4 linked regions of the Homo sapiens genome follow. The protein of the gene in region 1 interacts with the protein of each later gene in a biochemical or structural test. Each region holds a gene or a part of one and is shown in the gene's direction. Other genes may lie near its edges. The genes, in order: LRRC7, PPP1R9B, CNKSR2 and CTNND2.

What was found.
Region 2: the proteins of LRRC7 (region 1) and PPP1R9B form a complex in vitro, tested with the Homo sapiens proteins (one study listed by BioGRID).
Region 3: the proteins of LRRC7 (region 1) and CNKSR2 form a complex in vitro, tested with the Homo sapiens proteins (one study listed by BioGRID).
Region 4: the proteins of LRRC7 (region 1) and CTNND2 form a complex in vitro, tested with the Homo sapiens proteins (one study listed by BioGRID).

What each region holds. Positions count from the first base shown.
Region 1 is NC_000001.11:70,137,322-70,144,864, forward strand, and holds the end of LRRC7 (leucine-rich repeat-containing protein 7), read left to right. Parts: 3' UTR 1-7,043; downstream 7,044-7,543.
Region 2 is NC_000017.11:50,147,678-50,155,387, reverse strand, and holds the start of PPP1R9B (neurabin-2), read left to right. Parts: upstream 1-4,710; 5' UTR 4,711-4,874; coding exon 4,875-6,245; intron 6,246-6,560; exon of another isoform or gene 6,561-6,653; intron 6,654-7,710. UniProt on the Homo sapiens protein: Seems to act as a scaffold protein in multiple signaling pathways. Modulates excitatory synaptic transmission and dendritic spine morphology. Binds to actin filaments (F-actin) and shows cross-linking activity. Binds along the sides of the F-actin.
Region 3 is NC_000023.11:21,426,418-21,433,417, forward strand, and holds part of CNKSR2 (connector enhancer of kinase suppressor of ras 2), read left to right. Parts: intron 1-79; coding exon 80-243; intron 244-6,194; coding exon 6,195-6,397; intron 6,398-7,000.
Region 4 is NC_000005.10:11,341,179-11,348,778, reverse strand, and holds part of CTNND2 (catenin delta-2), read left to right. Parts: intron 1-2,151; coding exon 2,152-2,407; intron 2,408-7,600. UniProt on the Homo sapiens protein: Has a critical role in neuronal development, particularly in the formation and/or maintenance of dendritic spines and synapses. Involved in the regulation of Wnt signaling.

The sequences.
Region 1 (7,543 bases):
TTCATCTTAAGGCTTGATAACAAAGGCTTACTGTTCCACTTAAAGGGATCAATCTGAGGGAAGAAGAGAAGTTAACCTTTAGTGACCCTTGAAAGCTTTAAAATAATTCTTTTGTGTTTTAGACACCTAAGAAAAATGTACGTACATCTGGTGGACTTGCATATCTTTAACACTTATCATGTACCTACATACAAGGAAAACATTAGTCTTTACTGTTAGCAAACACTCCACCACTGGGGGTTGCTTTGTGTTTAAGTACCTAATAGACCCACCAGAGTTCAGTAAGAAATGCAACTTGAACAGCCCCTGAGATAAAATTTTCTAGGAAGTATAAAAACTAAAGAATGCCTGGAACTATGCAGACATAGATCAAGTCTCATGCATGTCATTTAGACAGACAGCTGAAATGCTGACATGGCCTATCCAGCCAGAGCCTTCAATTAAGAGTTCTCCAATGTTGACAATTTCAGCTGCCCTAGCAGCCTCTCTAAGCACTAAGAAGTATAGCCATCTAAATCCTTACAACTTATTCTAAGGGAAGAATCTCTTTAGAGATTACATTACACCAGCAAGAGAATATTAATAGTCCATATGGCTTTATTTCCAACAAAATCCCAGAGTTTTTGCTTGCTCTTTGAGGTTAAAATCAAAGATTTTTCACTCAGGATTAGCCTAGATGTAGAACAGCGACTGTATAATAAAGTTGAGTTCAAAAAGTGTATGAATTCAGTTATGGTCTGGAAAATTAGCTGCCATTTTGTGATGAAGTGTTTGGTTTTTCCTTGTAGAAACTTAGTGTCATTGCGCATCAACTTAGAAAATGTGAATTGATTAAAAATATGTGATGGATTGTGCAGCATGCTTACATTTGAAAATGGAGATTGTGCCTTTAAATACTTAATCAAAGGACTCCTGACCTTCAAGTACCAGTTTGGGCATATTACTGGAGATCCAGGTTGAAAGGTATTGAAAAAAAAGCTCTGTATCTTTGTATATTCAGTTGTCAACATGGAGAAGCCACCTTTTAAAAAAGATCAGTTCTGTAAAGCATAATGCCTACTACACAGACATCATTATTCTACTTAAAAGTCTTTTTTTAAAATTCCAAATACTTGTGGTAGTAGAAAGCAATAAATATTCTAAAATGAGGGATATTGGTCCTTTTGTGACTGAGCTATATGATAAACTAAGGAAAACTACAGAAGTTATGTCTATTAACTCTTTAAGGTACATGATATAGCAAATAATCATTTGTACAACCTCATAGAAAGTTGAGAGGATTAATCAAATTGTTTCAAAATTTTTAAGGAGCCAAATTTAAATTCTCAATACCCTATGAGATTTTTTAAACTATTTTAGATTCTTACCAGAAGAATGCATAGATGTAGTAAAACCATTAAATACAGTAGTATCTGGTGGCCTTTCTGTGTGGAGGAGCTCGTTTGTCCAAGGTATGATCTACCAGTGAGAAGATCAGTGCCAGGTCACAGAAAAAGCTAATCATTTTTAGTTTAATCCTGACCAGCTAGTCTTCCTCCAGGCATCAGCTACCTGATTTTAAAGAGACCATATTAGAAATGAAAAGCAGCAGTCTCTATCATATGTTAAATTCAAAGGCATAGCTGCTCGTGAAGACCCTATTATGTTTTATTTGCCTATCGGAGAAAGAGATCTGCCTACCTGCCTTTAGGAAAAAGCAATGCTTTATGTAGCTTCAATTAGTCCTGCATCAGGTTATTCTAATGCTTCCTACTGCAAAAACCAAGCCCACAAGTCTCCAATCCTAAAAGTCACTAGAATATTGATATAAGGAATTCTGTGTCAGCAGTATCTCAGTATTCAAACCTCTGTTTAGGGTCCTGCATGTACTATCAAACAGCAAGTGATAGAACATTCAGGCGTTTTATTGGATTTCAGAATTCAGATTCAGAATTAAGTACTCTTGGGATAAAGGAAATTAACGAGCTTTTGACATTTCAAGAACTCATTGAGATTGTCAAAGGCTTCAGTAATGAACTCTAACAAATAGATCCAGAAGTCATAAGTGAGAAAGAAAACAAGCATGTCTAGTGAAATCTGTCCAGTGTACGTAACACTGCACAAAGAGCATATTTTATTCAGACCATTTGGATTCAGATGTACCCTAAAGACAACTATGCTATAATGGCTTGTCTCCTACTTCCTGGCCTCTAGCCCTACCCATTGCCCAGGTGGACGTTATGTTTTTAGTTTTTCCTTTGTGGGTGAGGGAAGAAGAGGACATCAGGTGAAGTGTGCCATTACTATTTGAAAACTAGCTCTGCAGGAAGGGTTAAATCAAATCCTTTACAGGGTGACCTTCCTACATCTCCTTAGAGCAACTGCATTTCAAAATAGGCCAAAGCTGAAGTCATAGGAATGAGACATTAATTGTAGGTTTTCAGGAAAGCTTCGGAGACACGGCAGGTACAGTCTCCTTAGAGCCTTTGAAAATACAACATGTAGGTCCTTCTCAGATTATGCTGAAACTCCAAATCCTTGTTAAAGGTTTTCCTGGACTCCTACAGTCTGGTTTGATCAGTTTATTATTAAGTACTGAATGACAGAGAAGGGTACACAGGGAGGACTTGTATCACATGAAGTAAAATAATTATTTCCTTAATGAGAAACTTAATTCTAGGGTACTTACAATAGCTGCCTTATTGGGGGAAGGGAGGCATAGATTTGCAAATGGTGGGTTTTTTCGTTTTTTTGTGTGTTGGAGTAATTGAAAAGATACATCAAGCAATAATAAACTAGATGTGCAATAATCTTGTCGAGTAGTATGTGCTGGTTTTGGAAAGGTGAAAAGAAAATTGTTACATCAGGCTGCTTTTATCAAGCTAAGCATGGGCATGCCTTTCCAAAGGGTATATTTGATCCTACAGTTAATTTTAACATTGGGCTGCAAGCTTAACCTCATCAGGAGTGGAATTAGATTTTACAAAGTTCCCCTTATCCAAACTACAGCACGCTTACTACTTTCTCCTTCCATTTTCCACACCTCAGCCCCCTAGGACCAGCTACTGGTAAGTCATTTTGTCCATTTTCATTGATCTGGCCACATAAGGAACATCCTGTTTCTTTAAATCCTCAATGCTTAAATTGCCATGTAGAAATCAACTCCCTATCAATTTTCTACATTTAATCCTTGGCTTCTTGTCATATTTTCATTTTTCTGCACTGGTTCCCATGGCAACAAGTCTGTTGGCAGAGAAAGTATGACTCTGCTTTTAGCCTTCTGCACAAGACAAAATCCTTCTGGTGATCCTCAGGCAAGTATAATATAAAAAGTCAGGAATTGACTACAGTTCCCTTGGCTAATGCCTCTAATCCTTTACTCTCTTGCATGCATTTTCCACCTTATTCCCAAACCAGGCTTGAGAAAAAAAGCATTCAAGGGCCCTGCCCAGTATCTCTTTACTGATACAAGTATTCAAAGGCCCTCCTATCCAATCACAGCCACAAAGACTGAATATTTTGGTTCAGATGGCTTTCCCTTCTCCCTAAGTGTCAGTGACTTAACTGACATAAATGCATAATTAATGACAAGGACCACTGGGAGCAGCATCGAGAAGCAACTTTCAGTCATTTTTCTATAAACAACTTTCCTCAGTTCGCAACTGAGGTGTAGCCCAGGGAATAAGTATGTCCTGAATTGAGCCTTAAATCAGTGACTAATAAGGCAATGGAACACTCAAGCAGATTTTCCTCTAATGAGTAGTTAAGTGGCACAGGAGGAGAGGCCAAGGAGTCATCCCAGAGTTCTAAGCTCATAAAGAGGAAGAGATAACAAAAGATGTAGATAAGAGGACATTGTTAACTGGTGGCTGCAAATGAGCAAGGGAGCTTCATTCAGTTGGGACAATTCAGGGTTCAGGTACGAAAAGGGTATGAAGCCTACTGAAAAATAAGGAAATGGAGCATGGAGAAAGAAAGGGTTTTTAAGAGTTAAGTCAGTAGAAAGGGAGCCTGCAAATGAGACAATAGCTTCATGCAGACTTTGGCCCAACTCTGTCTACAAATACTTTTGCAAATAATGTTTCTCTTAATAAAATGATATATTTTGTTTTGAACTTTGGAATTCCATTGTGGCTTGGCACTAAATTATAGGCCTAGCAATCCTAAATCTCCTATGTCCTCAATATCTAGAAACAAGCAGGAACTGTTTGTCAGAAATTAAACAGGACTTATTTGAATGTGCTTTAAAAAAAAAATCAATGAATTCAGGGGAATGAAAATACATGTTAGAAATTAAAATGTGGTTATCTCAGCTATAGTTAAGAAAATTATCAAATGTAAATGATCCCTTTTTTGCTGGATCTTATAAAATATGTGATACTTAAGTACACTGAAGTTTTAAAGTTAGCTGCTTATATTGTACAAAGATATTTTTGGCTCTTTAAAGGTTATTTTCCTATATTAAGAAAAGGTTTCTTATATTGAAAACTTTTATGGTGACTCAGGTTTTGTGTCTATGTATAGGCACACATAAATAGGAGGTGTTTTTCTTTGCACATTTGTTTTGCACAGCTAAAATAATGAGGTTAAATAATGCCCAGGTATGCAGGTCAATTGACCTTTTTAATAGCTTAACGAAAGCATTTGACAAATGGACAAAAGAAATCACATTGTATTTCTTTGTATCTCTCCATTCCTCTTACCCTTCCCCAACCCTCTACTAAAGAATATTTCTTATTTAGTCAGGAAATCTTATGTAATATTTTTGGACGGTCCATAGGAAAAGCAAGATGAAACTCTCAGGCAGACAACATAAAGCAGCTCCCATATCTGCTAGAAAGGTCATTAATTTTCAGAATATATTGTTGAAATAATTTTTATTTTCAATACTTGTAGTCTTTCCACTCAGAGGACTCTTATTTGGCTTGAATGTGGAAAAGGCATCTGGTTCAGGTCAGTAAGGACTGTTGTATGTAAGTTTTACTCTAGAAAATTTGGTTTTAGCTTTGATGACACCTAGCGTCAGTGGAATGCAATGAATGCTTAATACTTCGGCTTTATAATGTTTGGGCATTTCTCTTTAACATCCTCAAATACACTTTCATCCTTGAAAACACAAGCCTATTTTCTGTTTGAAATGAAGAGAAAGGTAATTGACAGATAAACAGATAGTTTTTGTTTGAAGAGCCAATCAAGTTTCTCTTTGTACTCAGTAGGGACTAAAGGAAGCTTAAGGATAATGACATTGTCTTCATATGAAGAAGAAATTTTTTACTAGTGGAAAATTAGAAGTAAATCTACCAAATTCTGTTTGTAAATTTTAAAGACCACCACAAAAGACCTTGAAAAAAGTGAAACTACTGCAAGATTACTGTTGCTTATTGAAAGTAATAATACAGTTTTATTTTTTCCACTTTATAACTGCCCAAGGGCTCCCCCAACCAGCTATATATAAGAAAACCATAACATGAACTAGGGTCTTTCTATTCAAAAAAGAAATATTAAACTAACATAAGCAATTCTGAAGGAAGACAGTGGTAGGTTTTCAGATGGTTTGTTAAGAATTATATGTAAAAGGATACTAGATATTATGTTTTGGATGTTTTCTAAGTATCTATGAAAATTATTTTTTCCTAAACGATTTCATAATTGATTACTTTTGACCTCAGTTATTTTGGGGCATAATCCTTTTACTACTCTATAAAGAAGTTCTACTTCTACCTATATGAATTTGTATTTTCCCATATGCCAAACACACACACATAAATTTTCTTTTTCTCATTTCAGCTCATATAATTCAGTTAGTGAAATATTTCACTCTTCTGTAAGTTTAAGAAAAATTCCTAAGCAGTGATACAACTTTGGGTCGCTATTTTAGTAAAATGAAGAGTCTCTAGACTTTTTTTTTTTTTTTAATGATCTCTGACTTCACTACCATATGTGCAGCACAACAGTGACATCTTAAGGCCAAGTAACCAGAGCTCCTTTAGCCAGAGAAAGAACTTGAATTGGGATCTGATTTCAAAGAAATCCCATTATATTATCAAGTCGTTTTCAAATTTACAATATTCGACTGGTAAAGAAAGTGCTTCTTTATGACTTCTTTTGCAGTCTTTGTGAACCTTTTAATGTGCAATAGTAAACATTGACATTTTACATAGACATATTGTATATTAATGCATGCATTTCACTGCATAGTTTATTGACACTACCCTTGTAAAGCTTTTATGGAAGAACCAACAAGCCACAGCAGTATAGCAAAAGAGGCTTAATCTTTATAAATTGGGGCCTTTTCTGTCTCTTTGCTAGCCTAGGTGGCTGTATACAAATTCGGGTGGGAGGGGGCAGGAAACACCTCTTCACATTTAAGGTTTTCTACTTGGGTGTACTCTAGCCAATTCAAAACAAATTGCTTACTTTAATAATACAATTTTACCATTTTATAAAAAAAATCAAATCACAACATGTTTAACTGAAATGGCTGTATTGTAATTAATATTTTGAGATAATTGTGATTTTGAGCTTAAATTATATATAAAAAATTGTCATTTTTGTATGTGTTAAAAAGACTACTATATCACAATTAAAAGTACTTTTTAGTTGAACTACATATTGATGTAAATAAAACTGAATGAAGACATATTTACTACTTTATTAACATAGATCGTGAATGTACTTACTGGTTTTTTTGCAGTATGAGACCATAACAACCTTGAAAGCTGCTTCATTTTATGTGCAAAGAAGTCCTATGAATCTATATTTTAAATTTACTGAACCAGTGAAATTAATTACTGTCAGTTAATTTGCAAATGCAAGCTGTATTCTCCAGTTTTATTTTATGTACTGACACTAATTGGTAAAGGTGTACAATGTGATTAGAATGCATTTTGAAGATGCTTTCTGTACAGATACAAAATACAGGGACTAAAATAATGCTGTGCAGTGTATAGCAGAGCCATTTTTCGGCTTTGGTGTACTCAACTTTTTCAGTATTTAAAAAAGTGTTTTGAATAACATAAAAGTCTCCTTATTGTATAAATAATAAAATGTCACCTTATTGTAAAGTGTCTTTTGTTTACTATCAAAGCAGACCTCGTAGTCAGCAACAGAGATGTAATAAGAAAAAGGCATGTTTTTGTTTTTATTTTTTATTTTTTTGAGATGGAGGAGTTTCACTCTTACCCAAGGCTGGAGTACAGAGTGGCGCGATCTCAGCACTCTGTCATCCTCTGCCTCCTGGGTTCAAGTGATTCTCCTGCCTCAGCCTCCCAAGATGCTGAGATTACAGGCACATGCACCATGCCCGGATAGTTTTTTTTGGTTTTGTTTTTTGTATTTTTAGTAGAGACGGGGGTTTCACCATGTTAGCCAGGCTGGTCTTGAACTCCTGACCTCAAGTGATCTGCCCGCCTCAGCCTCCCGAAGTGTTGGGATTACAGGCGTAAGCCACTGCCCCCAGCCAAAAAGGCATGTTTTTTTTAAAATGAAAACATAAACATTGTAATCAATATTTGAAAAATGTAACTTTTATTCTGAACATGTAGTATTTATCTTTATTAGCAAT
Region 2 (7,710 bases), on another chromosome or scaffold:
AGCTCCCACAGCTACGGGCTGTCTGCCTTGCAAAATACATATTTACAGGCCCTCTAAGCCCAGCTAAATATAGGCTTTCTTTTAAAGCAACTGATGATTTGGAGAAATCTTTCCTCTGTCCAACCCCTTCCCCCGCCCCCCAACACACACACACACCCTGACTCCTCCTACCAAGTCTCCCTCCCTAGTCTCCAAGATGTATCTGAACTTTCCAAGAGCCACTGGAGCAAGTGTGGAGAGTGATAGAAAGAAACTGGGTACAGCAGAGGGAACCAGCAGCAAGGCAGTCTCCTAGCTGTGAGAGGACCCTAAGGGACCCCTCTCCCTGCAGGGACAATGAGGGGCTTGAGGCACCCACAGGCAGGAGTGAAAAACCCTTTGGGAAGTAGAGAAGAGAGGTCATCCCAAGAATGACCCCCAAAGATTTGGAGAAGCTGTAAGCAAGGGGTGTTTATATTTCAGAATTTCACATATTGAACCTTAAAGAAAATGAGAGCCCCAAAGTCCTGTGAAGACACACAGAGAGATGCAAACACCGAGTTTCATTCTCAGCCACACCTGCCCACATGTGCATGCAGGCACACACCCCCACATGTGCTTGGATACCCTGCAATCAGTAACAGCCAACACTCTGAGCCCCCTTTTAGTGCCTTATGCATTGAGGACCCATTTATTCCTCACAAAAACTCTATGAAGTTGGTATATTATCTTCATCTTATAGATGAAGGAATTTGTTGAAGCCCCTTAGCTGGGGAGTGGGAGGTTGGAGATTCTAACAGAGATGGCCTGGCTTCAAGGCCTGTGCTGCATGCACAAAAGTGAGGGACACCTAGGGTTATCTATGCTCAGGAAACACTCAGACACTCAAGCTAAGCTTTTTGAGGAAACAGGCTTTGGGAGGGGACACGACTAGCCCACGGTCATCCAGCAAATGAGTGCAGCTAGGACTCAATTCAGGCCTCATGAACCCTAGCCTGGTCTGTTTCCTTTAAAACTAGGTATGTCACTTCTCAGCTTTCGTCATTCTCCCTGTGAAGAGGTCAGCCAAGGGCCACTAAAGGCCCCTCCAACACTGACATCCTGGATTTGAGGTGTACACACACCTTTCCAGCATACCTTTCCAGCATCCTATAACCAGCCCAAATCCCTGGCAGAGGTCAACTCTTGAAGGAGAGCAACTGGGTGGGGACCACTGGCTCACCACAAAAGGATCCAAGTGCAGGGTCTGGGCCAGCCTCTGCTTAGATGACCGTGGCCAAGGAAAAACCGCTTTTAGAAGCTGAGTCTCAAGGCCCCAGGGCTGGAAAGAGAAGCCAGCCTTGGCACCCAGCCCGGGCCTGCGCCCAGGGCGCTGAGGGCTCGGGACTTATCGCTCGTCAGGCCTCTCCCTGCCTTCATCACTATCTTTGCAGTTACACCTGGTGTTTAAAACTAGCAAGCCTTGGGGAAGAGTCCTAACAGAGCATCTTCCCAAGGGCCCTAAGCAGATTTGGGGGGGTGTGGGAAAGCTGTGGCAGGGGGGCGGTTACCAGGAGGAGAGTTGGGGGTGAATTATCTCTGCCTATCGCAGCCTCTGGCCTTTTTAGCACAGGCTGGGAAAGGCGTCTCCTCCCCCACACCCTATCTTCTGTGTCCGAGCCACTCTCGTCCTTTCTGGGCCTTCTTTCATCCTCCCAGGGCACAGAGGAGGATAAGTGACTTGTCCAAGGTCACACAGCCAGTAAGCAGTGAAGCCAAGATTTGAACCCTAGCAGCCTGGCTCCTAGGTCAACCACTCTATGCCAAGGCAAAGGTAAGGAAGGAACTTCCATCCAAAGACCACTGGGCAACTTGGCCATCAAAGTCTCTTCCATGAAGACAAAGGAAAGAGAAAGGGTGGTTAAATTATCCTGGAGTGCTTCCTCACTGGAGGATGTAGGTGAAGATGACAGCCCAATGAATGAAAATTCTATTTAAAGCCTTCAGTTTGGATGGTAACCCTCCCAAACCCTCCTTGTTCCTATCAGGTGCGATTACTGCTCCAGACAGGCAGAGAAGGGATGGAGGGAATGAGACCCCATTCTTCACCCATCTCACAGGCCAGCCGGCTTGGTGCCTGACACCAGAGAACAAGTGATGGTGAAGCACTTACCGCTCCATAAAAGCGTCTTTGGGAATTCTGGCCAGGGTGTTGCTCTGCTAACCAGGAGCCCATGAAATAATAATCCCACTGATTAGCCTCAGTCCCCCAAGCTCTGGCTAGCTCCACCCTCTTGAAGCCCAAACCCCCTAGAAGGGTCTGTTAAAGGGGTTTGTCCGGAGATTCATAATCCTTTGGACAAGGGAGACCCAAGAGCACCCCTGTAATTCCAGTTTGCTCTAAGCTGCTACCGGAAATGCTGGGAGTCCGAGGGTCTCTGGGCCTGGTAGCTGGTTCTCAGCTCCTTCTCCCACCCTCAGAAACTGGGGGCTTCCCCACCTGGCCAGACGCGTGGGCACAGACCCCTTGGGCTGGGACCAGTTAAGATGATCTACCACCAAGGGTGTGGGAGATTCTGGGCAGAACACAGGGGCCTGCGCCCTCCTCCAATCCACACAAGAGCTTCTGAGTACATTGTACAAACTTCCAAACCCCAACTGGGTGAGGTTTCTGTCTTCTCCGGACTTCTATATTGGGGTTGGGGGGCCTGTGGGGAGGGGTTTTCAAGACCCAATCTTGAGTTTGGAAATCTAAGTCCCAAAGCTTGCTCCTGACAGAGGCCTTCTAAGAAGGGTTAGGAGACAGACTTCTTCACCCTGCACCATCCCAAAGTGCAAAACTGGGGAGGGGTAAGTTTCCTGGGCAACTGGGCAAAGATGCAGGTGGCATTTGGAAAGTGTGAGGTCTGGGTTCACTTCCGGCTCTAGCTCACAACCTAGATCTTCCCTCTTCCTTAGCACCAGCCTCAGGATCAGTCCTGCGGTTCCTGGCCCCTCCCGATCCCAATATCCAGGGTTCCCAGGCGGCTTCCCCACACCCCATCCCCCACGCTGTACTCTAAGCTCTTTTGCACATGGTAACGCGTTAATATCCCACAAAACCCACACACACCCCTGCAGTGGAGTGGTAGGAGGGCTCCCTTTGCCAGCCCTTCCAGGCCAGGGGGGAGAGAGTGGGAGATTAGGAAAAGGAGGAAGAGGATGGAGGGGAAGAGGGCGGGGGAGGAGGCAGAGGCCGCAGAAAGGCCTGAGATGCAGGAAGCAGCTGGGAGTGGGGGGAGGCTTTGTGCCTGAGTTGTTCTCTGGGTCCTAGGGCCCATTGTGTTCACCAGTTTCTGGGATGTGTGGAATGAACCAGCTCACCTGGACCTGTCCAGAGGGCGGACTCTCACACCCAGGGCCCAGGCAGCGCCAGCACCCTAGCTGTGTATGCGGGGGGTGCAGAGGGCATCAAACAGCTTTCTGGGTTGCCAGGACAGGGGATGTGTAAGTCACTGTCACCCTCCCCACCCCCCCACCCCAACCGGAACACAGTGGCCAGGATCCTTTAAATCAGAGACCCAAGTTAGAGCTCTCACTGGCGAAACTTTGGCCCCAGGCCTCTCGAATTCCTGCTCCCAAACCCTTCCTTCCGGTTTGAGAGGCAGGAGTGCCAGGGTAGGGGCCTGAAGACGGGTGCACAGCAGACAGGCGACAGGACATCCTTTCCAGACTTCGGCAGTTTTGGTGATCCCCTGCTACTTGGATGACGGGGTTCACCTCCTTTCTTCACCACCCCTCCCCCACCATCGAAAGGTCACCAGCGCTGGACCAAGGTTTCACACCTCCAAGGGGGCCAAAGATTGCCTGTAGTGAAGTGTTAAAATGCAGATTCCTGGGTTCAGCCTCGGAGATTCTCCTTCACAAGGTTCGAGAGAGATCCCAGAAATCTGCATTTTTACCAAGTGCCCAGCGATTCTGATGCTAAAGGCTTGAAGCACACCGAAGAGCTAGCTCCGAGGACACTGAAGAATGAACCTCTGCCCCTCCCTACAAACCCCCTCCCCTCACACTGAGACCATCGTGGATGTACTGCCTCCCCCCAATATTTCATGGAGGTGCGGTTCTGTGGGTTGTGACCGCAGTCAGAAGTTGTGATGGAAGCAGGTTGAAGAGTGCTGGCCAACGTCCGGGGGCAGCGGAAGGCTCTCCGCGAGGGCTGGGGAGGGGAGGGGATCCGTTCGGGTGGAGGGGAAGGGGAGGGCTCACAGGCTCCGGCCCCGGAAATCCGATCCCTTTAGGACCCAGAGGTGCCAGTCCCCCAGCGGCGGCTGCGAGAAGGGCAGCCGCTCGGTCTCCGGCAGCCGCCGCTCGGGCAAAGCCAGAGAAAGACCGAGGCTCGGGGCACGGGGGGGAGGGAGGGAGGGAGGGAGGCGCGGCGGCGGAGCGGCCCGGGCCGGCGGAGCAGCCATGGGCGTTGGGGTGCCGGGCCCCCCGAGAGCCGAGGCCTCCGGCCGGACTGGGGGACGCCCGGGCTGCCAGCCCCGCTGACACCGTCTCGGACGATGTGAGCCGGCGACACCGCGGCTGCTTCGCGGGCAGGGCGCGCGCTCCCACCGGCCCCAGACGCCGCTTTGCTAATTTGGGTGGGGGCGACCGTACCAGGCCGCTCGGGCTTTTGAAGCGGGGCTGGCTGTCTTCGGCAGCTTGATTGGGGGAGGCGACCCACACACAGGGCGCTTGGAGATTTTTTTTTTTTCATTTTTTTTTTTAAAGCGGGATTAACTGTTTTTGGCAGCTTGGTTTTGGGGGGACCCTAAAAAAGGCCTTCGGGGTTTCTTTTATCGGGGGGAGGGGGCGGTGGTCCCGACTTGGCCAGCCGCCTGTTGAAGCGGGGGAGCGGGGAGCAGGGGCATGCGAACCCGGCTCCCCCCACCATGATGAAGACGGAGCCACGGGGGCCCGGGGGTCCCCTCCGGAGCGCCTCCCCGCACCGCAGCGCCTACGAGGCGGGCATCCAGGCGCTGAAGCCGCCCGACGCGCCCGGGCCCGACGAGGCACCCAAGGGGGCCCACCACAAGAAATATGGCTCCAACGTCCACCGCATCAAAAGTATGTTCCTGCAGATGGGCACGACGGCGGGGCCCTCGGGCGAGGCGGGCGGCGGCGCGGGCCTGGCCGAGGCCCCACGGGCGTCCGAGCGCGGCGTGCGCCTGTCGCTGCCGCGGGCCAGCAGCCTGAACGAGAACGTGGACCACAGCGCCCTGCTGAAGCTGGGCACCAGCGTGTCGGAGCGCGTGAGCCGCTTCGACTCCAAGCCCGCGCCCTCCGCGCAGCCTGCGCCGCCGCCGCACCCGCCGTCCCGGCTGCAGGAGACGCGGAAGCTGTTCGAACGGAGCGCCCCAGCGGCCGCAGGCGGCGACAAGGAGGCCGCGGCGCGGCGGCTGCTGAGGCAGGAGCGCGCCGGCCTGCAGGACCGGAAGCTGGACGTCGTGGTGCGCTTCAACGGCAGCACCGAGGCGCTGGACAAGCTGGACGCTGACGCCGTGTCCCCCACGGTCAGCCAGCTCAGCGCCGTCTTCGAGAAGGCCGACTCGAGGACCGGCCTCCACCGCGGGCCCGGGCTCCCCAGGGCCGCAGGGGTTCCCCAGGTCAACTCGAAGCTGGTCAGCAAGCGGTCCCGGGTGTTCCAGCCCCCGCCGCCGCCGCCGCCCGCCCCGTCGGGGGATGCCCCGGCCGAGAAAGAGCGATGCCCCGCAGGGCAGCAGCCCCCGCAGCACCGAGTGGCCCCTGCCCGGCCGCCCCCCAAGCCCCGGGAGGTGCGCAAGATTAAGCCGGTGGAGGTGGAGGAGAGCGGGGAGTCGGAGGCCGAGTCGGCGCCCGGGGAGGTGATCCAGGCCGAGGTTACGGTCCACGCGGCCCTGGAGAATGGCAGCACCGTGGCAACTGCAGCCAGCCCCGCGCCCGAGGAGCCAAAGGCCCAAGCGGCCCCGGAGAAGGAGGCGGCGGCGGTAGCGCCGCCAGAGAGGGGGGTGGGCAATGGCCGGGCCCCGGACGTGGCCCCTGAGGAGGTAGATGAATCCAAGAAGGAGGACTTCTCGGAGGCGGACTTGGTGGACGTGAGCGCCTACAGTGGGCTCGGGGAGGACTCTGCGGGCAGTGCCCTGGAGGAGGACGACGAAGACGACGAGGAGGATGGGGAGCCCCCCTACGAGCCCGAGTCGGGGTGCGTGGAGATCCCGGGGCTGTCGGAGGAGGAGGACCCAGCCCCGAGCCGGAAGATCCATTTCAGCACGGCGCCCATCCAAGTAAGTGAGCCCCCCCGCCCTGCCCCCGCGCCGCCCCTGCCACGTGCACGCGGCCGCCCCCGCTCGCCAGCCAGCCAGCCGGGTTTGGCAGGCTGAGTCAGCCCCTGCCACCCAGCCCCCTTCCCAGAAGTTCCCACCCTCAGGGGGGCGTGGGGGAGTTCCAGCTGTTTGTCAGAGAGGGATTTTCAGGTGTGCGAGGGGGGTGGCCTGCCCCGACCTGCCCTCAGGTTCCTCCGCCTGCTGCCCCGCCCCGCCGCTCCGCGGAACCCGCCCTGCCCCACGCGGGTCCTGGGACACCTGCTTTCCCTTCCTCACCCGGACATTCCTTCCTCCAGAGGCTGCCAGAGGCTGGGGTTGGGTAGTGTGAAGGGGTGTGTGTGTCTTCAGGAGAGACATTTGCCCTTCACTGGGTAGAGAGGGGGCCGGGGTGCTTTCCCCCTGTATGGGAGCTGGATGAGGTGAGAAAGGGGAAAGCCAGGAACTTCTCAAAACGAAGCTGCAGGGGACCGCAGGCAGCCCTTCCTCTATTCTGTTTGTACCCCCACCCCAACTTTGCAGAAGTGAAAGAGGGAAGCAGATCGTGAGGGTGAGCTGGTCTGTGGCCATGTGACTGGCTGGCGCCGTGTTCCCTGGGGGTCCCTGCAGGCCAGCTGCCCGGTCCTCCTTGCACAGGGAGGGGCACTTTGTGTGGTCCTTGATGGGGAGAGGCCTTCTGCAGGCATGGAGGAGGAGGAGGTGGGGCTGGGATCCCCCTGGGTGCCTGGCAGTAGTGGGCATGCCTTTACTCTTGGCTGCTCAATAGGACAGACTCCCATGGCCTTGGCAGGCCCCAAGTGTTCTTGCCACATTCTCTGGGAGCCCTGAAAGAGGGATGGGAGCTGCCCCTTTTGGGGGTCTCATCCCCACGGCCACTATTGGTGGTTGGTTTGTGGGTTGTGCCAGAGCTTTGAGATCCTCAGAACAGCCCTGATGGGGAGGGAACATCCCCTGGGGGGAATCAAAAACCCCAGGCCACCCCTCCCCCCACTTCCCACCACCCTCCACTCTTGGCTAGCACATTCAGCCTGCAGGGTTCTTCCTCACCGCCCCAGGCTCAGCTGCACCCGGCCCCAGGTCCGCCCCATGGAAGTGTCCAGGTCCCTGGACTCTCCTTGGCCTGGACCCTGCCCTGCCTTTACCCTTCCCTAGCCAAAGCACCATCTGTTTGCTTGTCGTTTCCATAACTACTCCTGGACTCTGAAGCTTCCCAACTTTCCTCTCACTCGCCCAGAATGTCAGCCTCTGCCCCTCTCCCACCTCCCACCCCAGCAAGAGGCCTGAAAGGTTAAAAGTGAGTGGCTCTCAGGCCAGCCTCTCCCCTGGGCTGGGACCTGCGGGGTCCTCTCCCAACCCCTTTCCCCTCCTGAAGGCAGTGGGGTTCTGAAGGGAATGGGGGACTGTAGTGTTTCTTGGGACTCTGAAGCAG
Region 3 (7,000 bases), on another chromosome or scaffold:
GCTTGCTTCTAACCCACCCTTCACATTTATTTGGTTTGACCATGTTTTCATTCTGGTCTTTCATACTTTTATTTTGTAGGTCTTGATGACTGTTTGCAGCAGTATATTAAGAACTTTGAGAGGGAGAAGATCAGTGGGGACCAGCTGCTGCGCATTACACATCAGGAGCTAGAAGATCTGGGGGTCAGCCGCATTGGCCATCAGGAACTGATCTTGGAAGCAGTTGACCTTCTGTGTGCATTGGTAAGGACATAAAACTGGTGAAGAGGGAAACTTCTCTTTTTCTTCTTTTGTTGCTTTTCCCTTTTTTCTTCTCCTCTTTTGATAATCGAAATGCAAATAGAAGAAAAAAACTCTGATTCTCAACCAGCTGGACCTGATATTTTCTTCCTTCCTTAAATTTATTATATTAGTGCCAAATAACAGTTCCCTGTTTGTAACATCTTTTATAACAGTAAGACTTGGGTATATCAGAACCTTAAGTCCAGAGTGTATGTCTCATAAGCAGGGCTCTTCATAGATGAACCACTCATGTGCTAGGCTCTCACACTGCCAGTTGAGAAAGGAAAGAATATTGATTGACAGTGTTACATACATACAGTCTAGACGTTTGAAGTTTGACCCATGAACAAGGCTCTGCCGACCTAAACCTACTTAAAAGGATGGCATCAGAAATAGATGTCTAGACCACTTCTAAGTTTGAACCATGTAGCTGTGGTGAATCCTTTCTGATGCTGAGCTTTAATCCCTGTACAGTTCTGGGTTTAAGCACCAGGTTTAAGTCATGTCATTTGGATAGTTCATTATGTGATTGAGCTCTTCTGGAAGTTAATGCGGAAAATAAATTTAAACACCATTTTTTTTTCTGTTTATTCAGCAATTCCTTAGTCGCAGTCCCCAAAGAGGTCAAATGTTAAACTTCCTTCTTACCCCTTCCTAATGTAGTGGATATACATCAACAAGTCAGAAGTACAGATGTATTTCAGTTTATGCAACAGATGCTTTCTGGGGAATATAAAGCAAATTTCTGGGTAGTGAATTCTAATTTTCTTCTACATACCATTATGAAATCAGGAGGTGAGATTCCTTATCAACAAGCTGAGTTGACTAGTCCAGGAAGTTGTGCTATTGGGACTATATCTTTACCTCCTTCCCCTCTATCCCCAACTACTCTTTGAATTTCCGTTTACCCTGCTAAGTCTTGTCTCTCTGATCTTTACTGGCCTTTCTACATTTTCCTTATGTCTACTGTATTCATTTCTTTTTCAACAATTACATATTCATGCTCAAACAGTGCTATCACGGGGAATGCAAAGATGAAAAAGACAGTCTGTACTCCTGAAACATATACAGTCCATTAAGAAAGACAATAGCCATCAGAAGACAACATAGATTTAAAGAAAATTCCAGGGGAGTGTAGAAGGAAATGAACACTTCTGAGGGATTCAGGAAGTGTAGGTAAGATATGCATTTGGTCTTGCAGGATGATGAGATGTTTGCCAGACAAAAAGTTGGAGAAAAGTTATCTAGGCAGAAGAAATATCATGTGTAAAGACAGAATTGTGAAAGAATATGGAATATTCAGAGAAAATTGAGAATTTTCATTTAGCTTGTGCAGAATGGGAAGTGATGGGAAAAAAGGGAACTTAACACCTTGTATTACAATTCTTTGCTTAGGTTCTTTTATCCTTTAATTCATGTTGGGCTCCTCAAAGGAAGACATCTTTGTTTAGTTCATATTTTTTATTCAGCTTTCTGCCCAGTGCTTAGCTCATAAAAGATGCTAAATTAATGTTATCTTACTGAATTAAACTCTCTGTCTTTCTTCAGAGAAGCATAATTTTTCTCTTACCTGCATAGCCTTTGACTTTGAAGTTTCTGTTCCTCATATAAAGGAAGACATAGAAAAATTAGCAGATTCCTTTTGTTTCTTTAAGCTATACTATATTTTCGTCTACCTTGTCTTGAAGTTATTCCTTATGTGAATAAATGTTTATGGCAGCTGATGAGAATCAAAGGTTTATTTAGTCACTTGTTTATTCATGCAACATATATTTATTAAGCATCAGATATATTGTTTGCATCATGTTATTCTAGAAAGAAGTAAGCTGTTCATGATTTGGAGGTGTAATAATATTTCAAGCTATTAAGCTATAATTTAGTATGCTTTAATAGAGAGCAAAGATATTAACTGAAAGAGTAAAAATGTAAATAAAAATATATATATAGCTTAACGTATGGTCCTTAATTTGTGTTCTGACAATACACTTTTTATTAGGAACTGTAAATAAATCATTTATGACAGGATAAGAACAGTTTTCATTTCATTTTTCATGTACTTATAATTTCAGGCATTTTGCATGAAAGATTTGATGTTTGCAATTGCTGGGATTTGTTTCTTTGCAACATAATTGCTTGGTTCATTCATCTTAAAATAATTTATTTTCCAAAAAAATTCATTAAAGCAAGCCTTTTAGGACTCACTCATATTTATAAAGCAATGTATTATAAAGCTAAAAAGGTGCTACACGATGCATTCAAATTAAGAACTCTGAATAAAATGGCATTGACATTGTAAAATCTGTTGTTGCCAATATTAAGTATTTCTAGTTAAGTGGTTAGTGAAAATTTGCCACTAGTGAGGATATAGCTGACCTTATTTTTCTAAAATGTTAAATACATTTCTTTATTTCTTTCAAATGCTTTTGCATGCATATGATTGAAAGAGAAGGCTGATATGAACTTAGCATAAATTCATTAAGACTTAAATGGCTGTGTTGAATCAGTTCTAAGTCATTACTGGTTCTGGCACATGGTAATGGCCAAGTATATGAACAAATAAGTAACATATATGACAAACACAGCAGCTAAGTACATTTCATGTATAAGTTTTTGTTTTCTTGAGGTAGTCCTTTTTATACTAATAGTAATACCAAGTTTTGCTATGCATATCCAATAAAAAGCAAATCTGTGGTGAATAAACCTGCATTTTTAAAAAGTTGAGGCAGTGCCCTCCGTACCCCTGGCCTAACACAAAAGGTGCTTGATATACTTGTCAGTTCTTTAAATGGTAGGTAAGGGTGTGTGATTTACTGGTGACTTACCATGTCACAACAAACCATCCACTTACATGAAAGAAATAGCCAGAAGGTATCTGTATTGGTAGTAATTGAGAATTGTAATTATAAAAATTAACCTGAGGCTGGGCATGGTGGCATGCCTGTAATTCCAGCACTTTGGGAGCCTGAGGAGGGCAGATCACTTGAGCCTAGGAGTTCAAGACCAGCCTGGGCAATGTAGCAAGACCACATCTCTACAAAAAATTTAAAAATTAGCCAGGTGTGCTGGCATACACCTGTAGTACCAGGTACTTAGAAGGCTGAGGTGGAAGGATCGCTTGAACCCAGGAAGTCCAGGCTGCAGTGAGCTGTGATAATGCCACTGCACTCCATCCTGGGTGACAGAACGAGACCCTGTATCAAAAAAATAAAATAAAATAAATTTTAAAAATTAAAAAGTTAACTTGAGAGATCAATTAATCTCTTTTGTTAAAATAGTAGCACATAAATCTGGTTACATACAGATGAGCTTCTTACCTATTATACTCTTCTAAATTTTTAAAACATGTTTTTAGATTATCAGTGTAGTTATGTTCATTAACTAGAGCAAGTTTTAACAATTTCCTTCCCCATCCTCTGCTACATATCTTTTAAAGATTCTTTTTTCCTCTGCATTTCTCTGTCCTCTACATTTTTCACCTCTATTCTGCGTAATATATTTTTAGGAGGTTTCCAAGTTAGAACCTCTGAGAGTATCCTTCCAGGTTTTGTCCGGATGATTATTATATTCCCTAATTCTTGAGTCATATGAAAAATAATAATTTTAGTTTCTTAAATTTTGAAGACTCTGGAATATTTTTACTTTGCCTTTGGATTTTTACTTATAAGAAGATTAATATTATTTTACCTTTCCTAATAAATCATTTGAGATGCTAGTGTTATATAGAGATAAACAATTTAAAATAATCTTTTATGGAGGCTAATAGCTACAGAGTGAAATATCAGTTACCAAGTTGAGTAGGTTTCTCGCTAATAAATTGTTATAATTTGAACTTCTCTAAGAGATTACTATAATTTGTTGGCAAACAAATGTTTTCTTATTAAACTCATTTATACACAAAAATGAAAAATACAATCATTTTTTACTTTAGAAAAATGCTTTAACACAGGGAAAACTTCTGAAAATACTTTGCTTTTCAGTATTTTCATTTACAATTACATTTACAGAAGAAATATCATTTACAGTTAGTTTGTATAGTTATAAATTGTTCTTATCTAGTCATTAGAGAGCATCTTTTATAAACATAAGAGGATTTCTTTCATACTGTAGTGACCGGCTGGACAAACTCTCCCACATTTCACAAATAATCCATTCTTAAATGCAATAGAATTTGAATAGAATGTTGTTTTATTTGCCCAAGCAAATCTTTTAACATGAGAGAAGAATATTACAGTTCAAATTAAGCAGTGAATATTTAACATATTAATACTATGTTATTTTAGAAAACAAATTTATAACTTTAGAAGAAAGTGTTCTTTTAATAAATATGTAAATTCCCAGCAAAAGACAAGCAGACTTTTATCACGATTAAATCTGTAGTGGTAACATACATAACTTGGTATTTAATGTTTAGGCATCAAAACCTTCCTCTCCCCTCATTTTGTCTCCACTAAGTTTTCTCTTGTCTTAAATTGTCATAGGAAAAAAAGACACCTAAATGTTATATACAAAGTAGGTACCCAGTGATTGTTGACTTAATAACATAGCTTAATTCATTGTATGGCTTACTTTCCTTTTTCACCCTTCATCTTCCACTTTGACTTAATTATTGTTACCATGTTTCTGAGAATAGGAGTAGAATATTGGTGCTAAGGAATGTGGTAGACATATCCGCTCACAGATGGCCTGGTGACTTGTAGTTCCATTCTGAACTCTGTCTAGTCCAAGTACAGAGTTTTTTAAGCAAACTGTTAAAAAAGAAATCTTCCCATACCTCAGTTTCCCCAACTGTGAAAAGGTAAGTCAAACTTAGCCTCCCAGGCCCAAGCAAATTCTTACATTCTTTGGGTTTTGCCATTTTAAGTAAGGTGGTAATAACTTTAACTTTACACACAACAGTAATGTGCATGCTGCTAAGTGTTTTAATCAAGGTTATCCTTGGATAATATTAACCAGCCTTTTTAAGGGGTGTTTTACAACACACAATTAGCTGCTTTACATTTTAATTGTAACTTTTGAAAACTTTCCCCAAAGTTTGAAGGGATCCTACAATCTTTTTCTATTTGAAGATAGTAAAAAGGCTTATTACACTTATTCATATAACCCGTTTCTGCTATAAAGTATAATAGATAAGATATTTAGGATGAATTAACAAATATTAGTTGAAATGTGAGAACAAAGAAAAGAAGAAAACAAATACACTTACCAAAAAGTCACTGTGATTGCTTTTGGTGTGCTTCATATTTAGTTGTGAGCTAATACAGCCAGGACAAAAACAAAAATAATTTTAGTTTCATAATTTGTATTACAAAAAGGAGAAAGTATATTAGTTCCCCTGAGGAAGCAGAGTTTTTCCTGATACCATATTATAAAAGAAACTTCTTATACATCATTATGTAGAGTACGTATTTTTTTATCTGATTTATTTACCTGATTTATTTCTTGCTTTTTCATTTTATTATTGTTGGTTGTGTTTATTTTCCTAACTTTGGGGAAGCAGAATTATCCCTAGTACCTACATTCCTGACCATGTGTATTGTTAATAGAATATCTACTCAAAAATAATTGTTGATAATAATTAATTTCACAAGTAAATAAACTTAGGTTTTGGTTTTAAAAAACAAATTTATTATTTCTTACAATCTTGCTTTCTTGGGTAGCATAGTTCTAAGATACAATGCCCTTATCTTTCCATGTTCATATTAGTACTTAACACATTTTATTATAATTTCTTTATATGACATCTTCCCAAATAGTCACTTAACTGTGGGCTCCGCTAGGTCAGGAATCCTATCTTATTCATTTGTAACTCGAATGCTACCCCATTGCCTGTGCATAATAAAGTATTCAGTAAATATTTTCATGAATGAATAAAACTGACTTTAAATATATTCTCTCTCTTTTTTATAATTCAGAATTATGGCTTGGAAACAGAAAATCTAAAAACCCTTTCTCACAAGTTGAATGCATCTGCCAAAAATCTGCAGAATTTTATAACAGGAAGGAGAAGGAGTGGCCATTATGATGGGAGGACCAGCCGAAAATTGCCAAACGACTTTCTGACCTCAGTTGTGGATCTGATTGGAGCAGCCAAGAGTCTGCTTGCCTGGTTGGACAGGTAAAGTCTTCCGCATGTTTCATAAGTATCCTCTCCTCAGACACCAGTTTGAATATAACATTATTTTGCATTTTGTTGTGAAAGGATTGGACAGGCAGAGGAGTACCAAGTAATAAATGTCTAATGATGATTTACCACAATATAGGGGTATTAAATAGATATTAGTCTTTTATAAAATTTGATGTCCAACTAAGTAGCCAATCAATAATTAGTCTGACAACTGTAAAATACCTTGCTGCTTTATAAGCAAAATCATTATTTGGCTGTCATAATAAAATTTATAAATTTTTGTTTATTATAATACTGCTTTGTGTCCTGATGTTCTTTATTCATATTAATTGGTTGTACTTAAGGAAATGACCATTGGGATTCTATAAACTGTTTTAAATAGGTAATTAGACACTGACACCTTCATAGCATGCCTTGTATGTCTCCTTGGCCTCGCTTCATTCATTCTCTGTTATTAATTACATTGTACTATTTTGGATATCATAAACACACTTTTAGACTTTTTTAAGTTTAGTTGACTTTCATTTGTTTTGGAACACATAAAATAGTATAAAAGTCTTGTAATATGAAATGAAAATGTTAGATTTAAATTAT
Region 4 (7,600 bases), on another chromosome or scaffold:
GTTTTTCTTAAACTCTTTCTTGTTATATTTTCTTTTAATTCATGGTCCTTTGAGAGTTTTTTGTGTGGGTAGTCAAATTGTTCTCCTTACCTACTCTGTTGTTTTCTTAACAAAAAGACTTCTTTAGATTTCAATATTATTTCCTGATCTCTGACACTTTAATCATTGTATTGAATACATTAATAGCAAATGATTTTGCATAGAAAACTATTTCTTTCCTGAAAACCATTTTCAGCAAGATTAAATGTTGATACTTAGTTTTCTGAATGGAAAAAAATGCACATCTATGAAAAATGCCAGATGTACTTAGTTTTCTTTTTTCTTTTTTTTTTTTTTTTTTTGCCCTTGATTTTCTGGCTAGCTTATCACAACTTGTAGAAAATGAAATTTTGTTTACCTCTGTACATTTGTTCATCCAAGAGCAAGTTTATGACTTGCCTGTTTTAAACCCCTTTCAGCATAATATAAGGCACATTATGCATAAATTTTAAAATGTGGATTTTAATTACACATGCTGGTAATACTTTGGAGAAACGATAAATCCTCAAGGACTTGCATAAGGACATAAAGCGGATTTTCTGATTGTGCAGTTAATGTTTATTAGCCTAATCTGATTATTTTGAGACTTAACACATCAGGACAACCTTCGTTATTTCAAAATATTGTCCCTCTGGGAATATATGCACTTTTTGTTTATAAAGTTTCTCTTAAATATTTTTGTCATTTTTGTCATGTCACGGAACCTAATTTCCTAAATTTTTGTAATTCTAAGATGAAGTCTTGAAAGTTCACTGGGAAAGAAGAGCCCTGAACTCTTAAGTCAATCCTCGGTATTAGAGTGTATTCCTCCCATTCACTTTGCAGATTTTCATCATTTCGACACAATTTCCTTACCTCTTTTAATAATTATTTTCTCAGCATGACATAATGTCCTTTGTGTCTGATTTGGTATATGTCCCCTAATGTAAAAGAGGATAAAATAAGCTCTATCATTGTTCACTAAGAAATGGTTAGGAAGTCAGAGATGTATAATTGATAATTAGAACCTAATTCCCATAGAGCACCCATGTCATAAATGGTCCTATCTAGCCACTGGCTGTATTTTGGATATGAAGTCTGTTCTACAGCACCAGAAAGCAAGTGGGCTGTCTGCTGTTGATCATGACTAGCAGTCTAAAGCAGTTAATAACTGGTCATATTCTACTGAAATGAAAGATGCTATTTTCATTGTATCTATCAACCAAACCTTAGATGTCAAATATATTTTGAGAACCAGATAAAAATAATGACATGAAAGGATCTAAAAAGAATCCAAGAGGGAAACAAAAAATTGAAATTCAGTTTCAAAATAGTCAAACTGATTTTAGTAACTAGTGTAAAATCTTCTCAAAACAATTTAGACACATTGAGAAGATGCAAATACTTTCAGAAAAGCTAAGTCAGCTCCTTATTTTGTCTGCCTTGCAGTTGGGTTGGTTTTGGCCTTATTCTCCCTTCACCAAATGTGTTTGTTTCTGTGACAGCTTCACTTGAAAAAGAGGCATATAAAAATCTTTCGGGAGTTACTTTACAAAAACTAGAGCAGTCATGGATTGAATGTTCTGGTGCTAATTATGGAGATGTGAACCCCACCTCTTCTCACCTCCACCCCCATGCATACACTCCCTCTCATTTCTTCTTATTTTCTTTGATTCAAGAAAATTAACTACATTACTAATTACATTACTGAATTCATTTTACATCTTTAATAAAGTTAATATAACATTACCGGAACACATTCTGAATCTTCTCAACTTGAAAATGAAGAATTAACTTCCCATGCCTCCTTAGAAAGTATTCTCTATATTTCTTCTTATGCACAAAGTTTATATTGCAGCTGAACACACCTTCTGTTGGATGTAGGTAAGCGATATACACACAACAGATGCATTCCCCCCATACCTGAAAGGTTTGTCTCTTAGGCATGCTAATTATCATTTGACTGGATAACATTGAATGTATTGGTTCAAATATGATGGATTAATTTTTTTTATTCTTTTGAACCCCCTATTTTTTATGTGTGTAACTTCCCCTGCCCCTGCCTAGACCTGGTTAACCATTTCTGTGAGCAGGTCCTCAATTTTTTACTTTGTCCCTACTTTCCTGTCGTAGCCCCATCTTCCCCTGGTGTCGACTCCGTCCCCTTGCAGCGCACAGGCAGCCAGCACGGCCCACAGAATGCCGCCGCGGCCACCTTCCAGAGGGCCAGCTATGCCGCCGGCCCAGCCTCCAATTACGCGGACCCCTACCGACAGCTGCAGTATTGTCCCTCTGTTGAGTCTCCATACAGCAAATCCGGCCCTGCTCTCCCGCCTGAAGGCACCTTGGCCAGGTCCCCGTCCATTGATAGCATTCAGAAAGATCCCAGGTGGGTAAAAACCTTTTTCTTTCCCTATGATGTCTAAAGAGGTTTTGTAACCTGGTACTGTAATTTATTTCACGTCATGTTGCATTTATGTCACTGACTATTAAAGGGTTGGCTTTTCTTGGGTTTTCTTTTGTTTGACTTGGAATGTGTGTGCTTGCAATGGATCCCTAGTATCTTTGGTGGTTCATCACCAAAAACAGAGATGATCTTTTGATCAGAGTATCTATATGTGCTTGATGTTTAGCTACTTGATGAGATGTAAACAGCCGTCTTTAATACAGGGGAAACTGGGGACTGGAGGCTATGTCATTTGACTTCAGATATCATGGCCTACATATTTTATTGTCTCAGTGGAAGTATGCTTTGTCATCATGCGTATTTCTATTTATCAGATTGCAAAGGGGTACACCTTCCAAGCTATAGTAAAATTGAAAATTTAGAAATTTTACATGGCCTTCATTTCTCTATGTCTGAAAATAAACATTAGGATGAAGTTGTTTAAAGACTGATAAAAATGTGAGCATAATATATTAGAGAAATTGTTGTTATGGAGGTTTTTTTTTGTGGTTGTTGTTGCTGTTTTTTCTTTCTTTCTTTCTTTTTTCCATCAGTGGCAAGGGGTTTAGCAATGCTCTGCTTGTAAAGTTGGATTTGAGTCCCTGTAGAGTTAAAGGATGTTTTATTCATAGCCATTGGATTTATGCTGATAGAGTCCCATAAATATATATATCTGCATCTGTGAATACTGTTGATATGTCAGATTGCTGATATTTCTTTATGGCAGGGCAGGTGGCTTGACTCTGGTCTTGTACTTAAAATTCATCTCAAGGAATTTTCACTGATGGAGCACGCAAGTTCCTGTGTACTGTATTGAGGGGTTGGAATAGATTTTTTTGCAAAAAGAAATCACTTCTGCAAATATAAAAGGCAGAATGGGATCATTTTATGGTTTACGTTGAGATAGCTACTTTAGCACAATTCAAACCTGCTTGGAAGGTCCATGTTAAATATTGTATTTGGTATAACACCATTGAAAAAGTGAATTGTAATAAGTGCTTACTGTTATCTACCAGAAATCGGAAGCATTCTTTTGTTTACTATGTTCAGTGTACTGGTTATCTAGATTTTCAGTCTCAACAGCACTCTTTATAGTCTTGGTCCTGAAACCTGCCCCAGATCCTTAAGTATTCTTGGCATGTATGGCAAGCGTATTCATCAGAAAATACCTCAACATATTCCCTATTTTAAAATAATCTTTCTTGATATGCTACTGAAAATGTGTAGAAATAGCGTAATAGTGAACCCTTAAGAAATGCTAAAAGACAAAAATATGTGATTTGACATTGTTTATATTTAACATAGGAGGTTTAAATTGACAATAAACATTTTATCTCTGATGGAAATACTTTAAATTTTCATATTAGGAATTTAGCTTAATAAGAAACCAAATTATATTTCTCTAGCTGTAGCATAGCTTCTGTATTTAATACTGTGTATTAAATGCATTTTATTTTATTAAATGGCGTATCCTTTCCATTTTATGTTACTGTCATTTTTACAGCCTTTTTTCTTCTCTCAATATATTGACACAGCTCTTACCTTTTCAAGTTATGGATTATGTCACTTATATTTATTGAGTGCCTGCTATAAACCAAAAAAGAAAAACACCAATAAGAAGGGTTAGAATGAATAAGAGAATATTGACCACTAAGCTTTTGTATGCGTCAAATTTGTATGCAGATTAGTGCTATATGAATTATAAGTTCATCCTGAGCTCAGACCCACAGACCCCCCAAAAAAAAGAAAAGAAAAGAAAAAACAAATCTAGAACCAGAACTGGACTATTGTGGTTTATTATAAAAGGGATTCATTATCTGGCATCATGCAAAATGTATGGAGCATAAAGTGTAGTAATATAATACCTTTCTTGTCGGGTTTTCTTAAAATTAAGGAATGTCTCAACATGTTTTTTTTTTTTTTGAGACGGAGTCTCGTTTTGTCGCCCAGGCTGGAGTGCTGTGGCGCGATCTCCGCTCACTGCAAGCTCCGCCTTCCGGGTTCACACCATTCTCCTGCCTCAGCCTCCCGAGTAGCTGGGACTACAGGCGCCCGCCACCGCGCCCGGCTAATTTTTTGTATTTTTAGTAGAGACGGGGTTTCACCGTGGTCTCGATCTCCTGACCTCGTGATCCACCCGCCTCGGCCTCCCAAAGTGCTGGGATTACAGGCGTGAGCCACCGCGCCCGGCAACATGTTTTTATTTAATGGAGAGACGTGCCAAATTTAAACTTCAGGTCCAAAATATAGTAATTCTTTTAAGACAAGATTTTTGCATTTTCCCTTAAATATTATAATTTGATTCCTCATAGGTGAATATTACCAGAACTAATATGTTTAACTTCTAGGGCTCACACTTATTTATTTTGGCGTTATGGCTTATTATTTAAATCTTTTCAATGTTTTCAAGCTTTTGAAATATATTTACATATATTTAAGAGAATTTGTTAACATTTTATTTACTGCCAAACACCAGGCTATGTAAGCCTCTTTATCATTATAAACATATGTTTATAGCACATTACAATCTTCAAAGTAGGCTTACTTACATCTTTGATGTAATCCTCCTTTGTGAGCAGAAACTGATATCCCATATTTAATGCCTTAAATAAATGCAGAATCAGAATGTTAAATGACTTCTTGAAAATGCATTGGTGCCAGGTGAGTGTGCGGACCTACATCTACATTGTTAGCACATATTGAATCCATACTGCAGCACATGTTGGCACGAACATTTTTATTTCTTTACAAAAAAGAAAAAGGAAAAAGAAAGAGTATATTTATGATTTTTTTTCAGAGGATGAATGGCAGTACCAGTATCTGTGTAGGAGTTGGGAAGAATGAAGGAAATTGTCTAAGTAGTTCTGGCATCCCTGATCGATTGCTTATTGGATGTGTGGTCTTTGTTATATTTTTCATTTCCGGCATCTACCTTATTTTTCTTATTGTAGACCAGTATCTCTTCTCTGTTAGAGAGTTTTAGTATTATTCAGTGAGAAGTGTTTAAGCAAATACTGCATTTTGAAATAATAATTTGAAGTCATGGCAGTTCCACTTCATCATTAGACTTGAAACCAGAGAAGCCATATTGACTTTCTGTGACTCTAAGTCATAGGATACAAAAGGATTGGTTCTGAGGGGTTGGGATTTTCTTGTTGATGGTTGGCTCAGTCATTTGGATTGTGGCAAAGCTTTGGTCTTTTCTCTTTTGACTAGTCATCCTATATGCCAACAGAAAACCCACAGAAATGTCTTATCCAATTTTCTTTGTAAAGCCAGCAGTCACTGAGATCATTTTTAAACCTGTAAAATTCCCTTTACAGCCCCATTTGCTAAGAAGATTTTATTTGTAATTGTATGTTATTTTCCATAAAATGTGAATCTCTTAAGGATTGTTATCATAGCTAATATATTTGTAGGTACTACACCAGCTATTGAGTTCTATATACTGTTGTTTTTAAACATGAAAGTCAAATATAACTCTTAAATTATATGAAAGAAGTGTCAGTCATGTTGGTAGTGATAAGTCACAAAAGCATTCTCATTTTGAAAATTTGATGATGAAACAAATGGAAAAAAACACAGCAAGACTGATATACCCAGATATACTAAGGGTATTATAACTGTCTTGTCTATCAAATAATAAAAGTCATGGTTAAGATATATTACTGACATAATGTGTAAATTGTAGCAGTAATAGCAACTTTTAATCGTGTTTGATTAATCCCTTTTTGAGATGTTGTAATCCTTGGTGTACACTATCTCGAAAGCAGTTTTTCAAACATGCTTAAAGAATCTCACTTTTTATGAATGTGATTTGCAATAGAACACTATCTTCTATTTTGTTATTCATCATAACAGGAATACATACAATGGCACATTTTTAATGCTGATGCTGGGCCCAAATTATAGCAGCTGCACTTTCAGTCGGCTCTATCAAACTCACTCCATGGATTTGTTCCGTTTCAAACCGCAAAATTTGACTAAGAGTATGACAATATGCACTTTTAAGGAATTATGTATACATTTCCACTATATTTTGTGTGCTGTTTCGAAATAGTAACAACATTTATCTTATTGTTGGACACTTTATTGTTAAATCTCATTAATGAATATTACTTATAAATATTTTACTACTAGGTAAACCTTGGTAAAGAATGTTTTCCAAATGCTGCTTTTTCTTTTTTTAACTGTTCACGACGCATGTGCACATGTGGACACACACACACACACCCACGCGCATGCATATATAGTGAATTGAAAGCTCAGGAAACAAAATATACTATAAAAATGCTTTTATTTTTTGAGACAAGGTTTTGCCCTGTCACCCAGGCTGGAGTGCAGTGGTGTGATCCTAGCTCATTGCAGGCTCAAACTTCCAGGCTCAAATGATCCTCCCACCTCAGCCTCCCAAGTAGGTGGGACTACAGGCTGGCCACAAGCCTGGTTAAATTGTTTTTATTATTTTTTTTAGAGAAGGGGTCTTGCTGTGCTGCCCAGGCTGGTCTTGAACTCCCTGACTCAAGTGATCCTCCTGCCTTGGCCTCCCATAGGGTTGGAGTTGCAAGCATGAGCTACAGTGCCTGGCATAAAAATGCTTTTAAAAAGATGAAGACTTGAAGAATATTTTTTAAATATTAAAGTTTAAACAGTATTATGTAACTTGTTACCATGTAACTCAAATAACATGGCTGAAATGTTTGCAGTAAACCACATATCATATTTTTCAGGGTCCAATTCTCTCAGGTGATGAATCTCTGGGTAGTTTGCTTTTAACTTCAAATGCTCACTAATTATTTATTTAACTGAGGAAATATCCAAGGGGAGAAATACTGGATTCACAACTTAAAGACTTCTGGAGTTTGAAGAGTGCCGGAGGTCGTTTATCAGTTGAGCTAATAGCAATCCCAAAACCTTGCCATTCAGCCCCTGCTTGAATGCCTTGAGCAACAGGCCCCTCACCATCTCTTGAACCATTTTATTTTTCTTTGAGTAATCCAAGCCTTATGCACTAGTTTATATTGATACAGAAATCTGCATCTTTTGTAAGTTCCTTCACTGATCTTGTTTCTGACCTTTGAAATCGTTTGAGAATACACCTATCCCTTTTTCAAAGAGTGGCCTTGGGAGACAGTT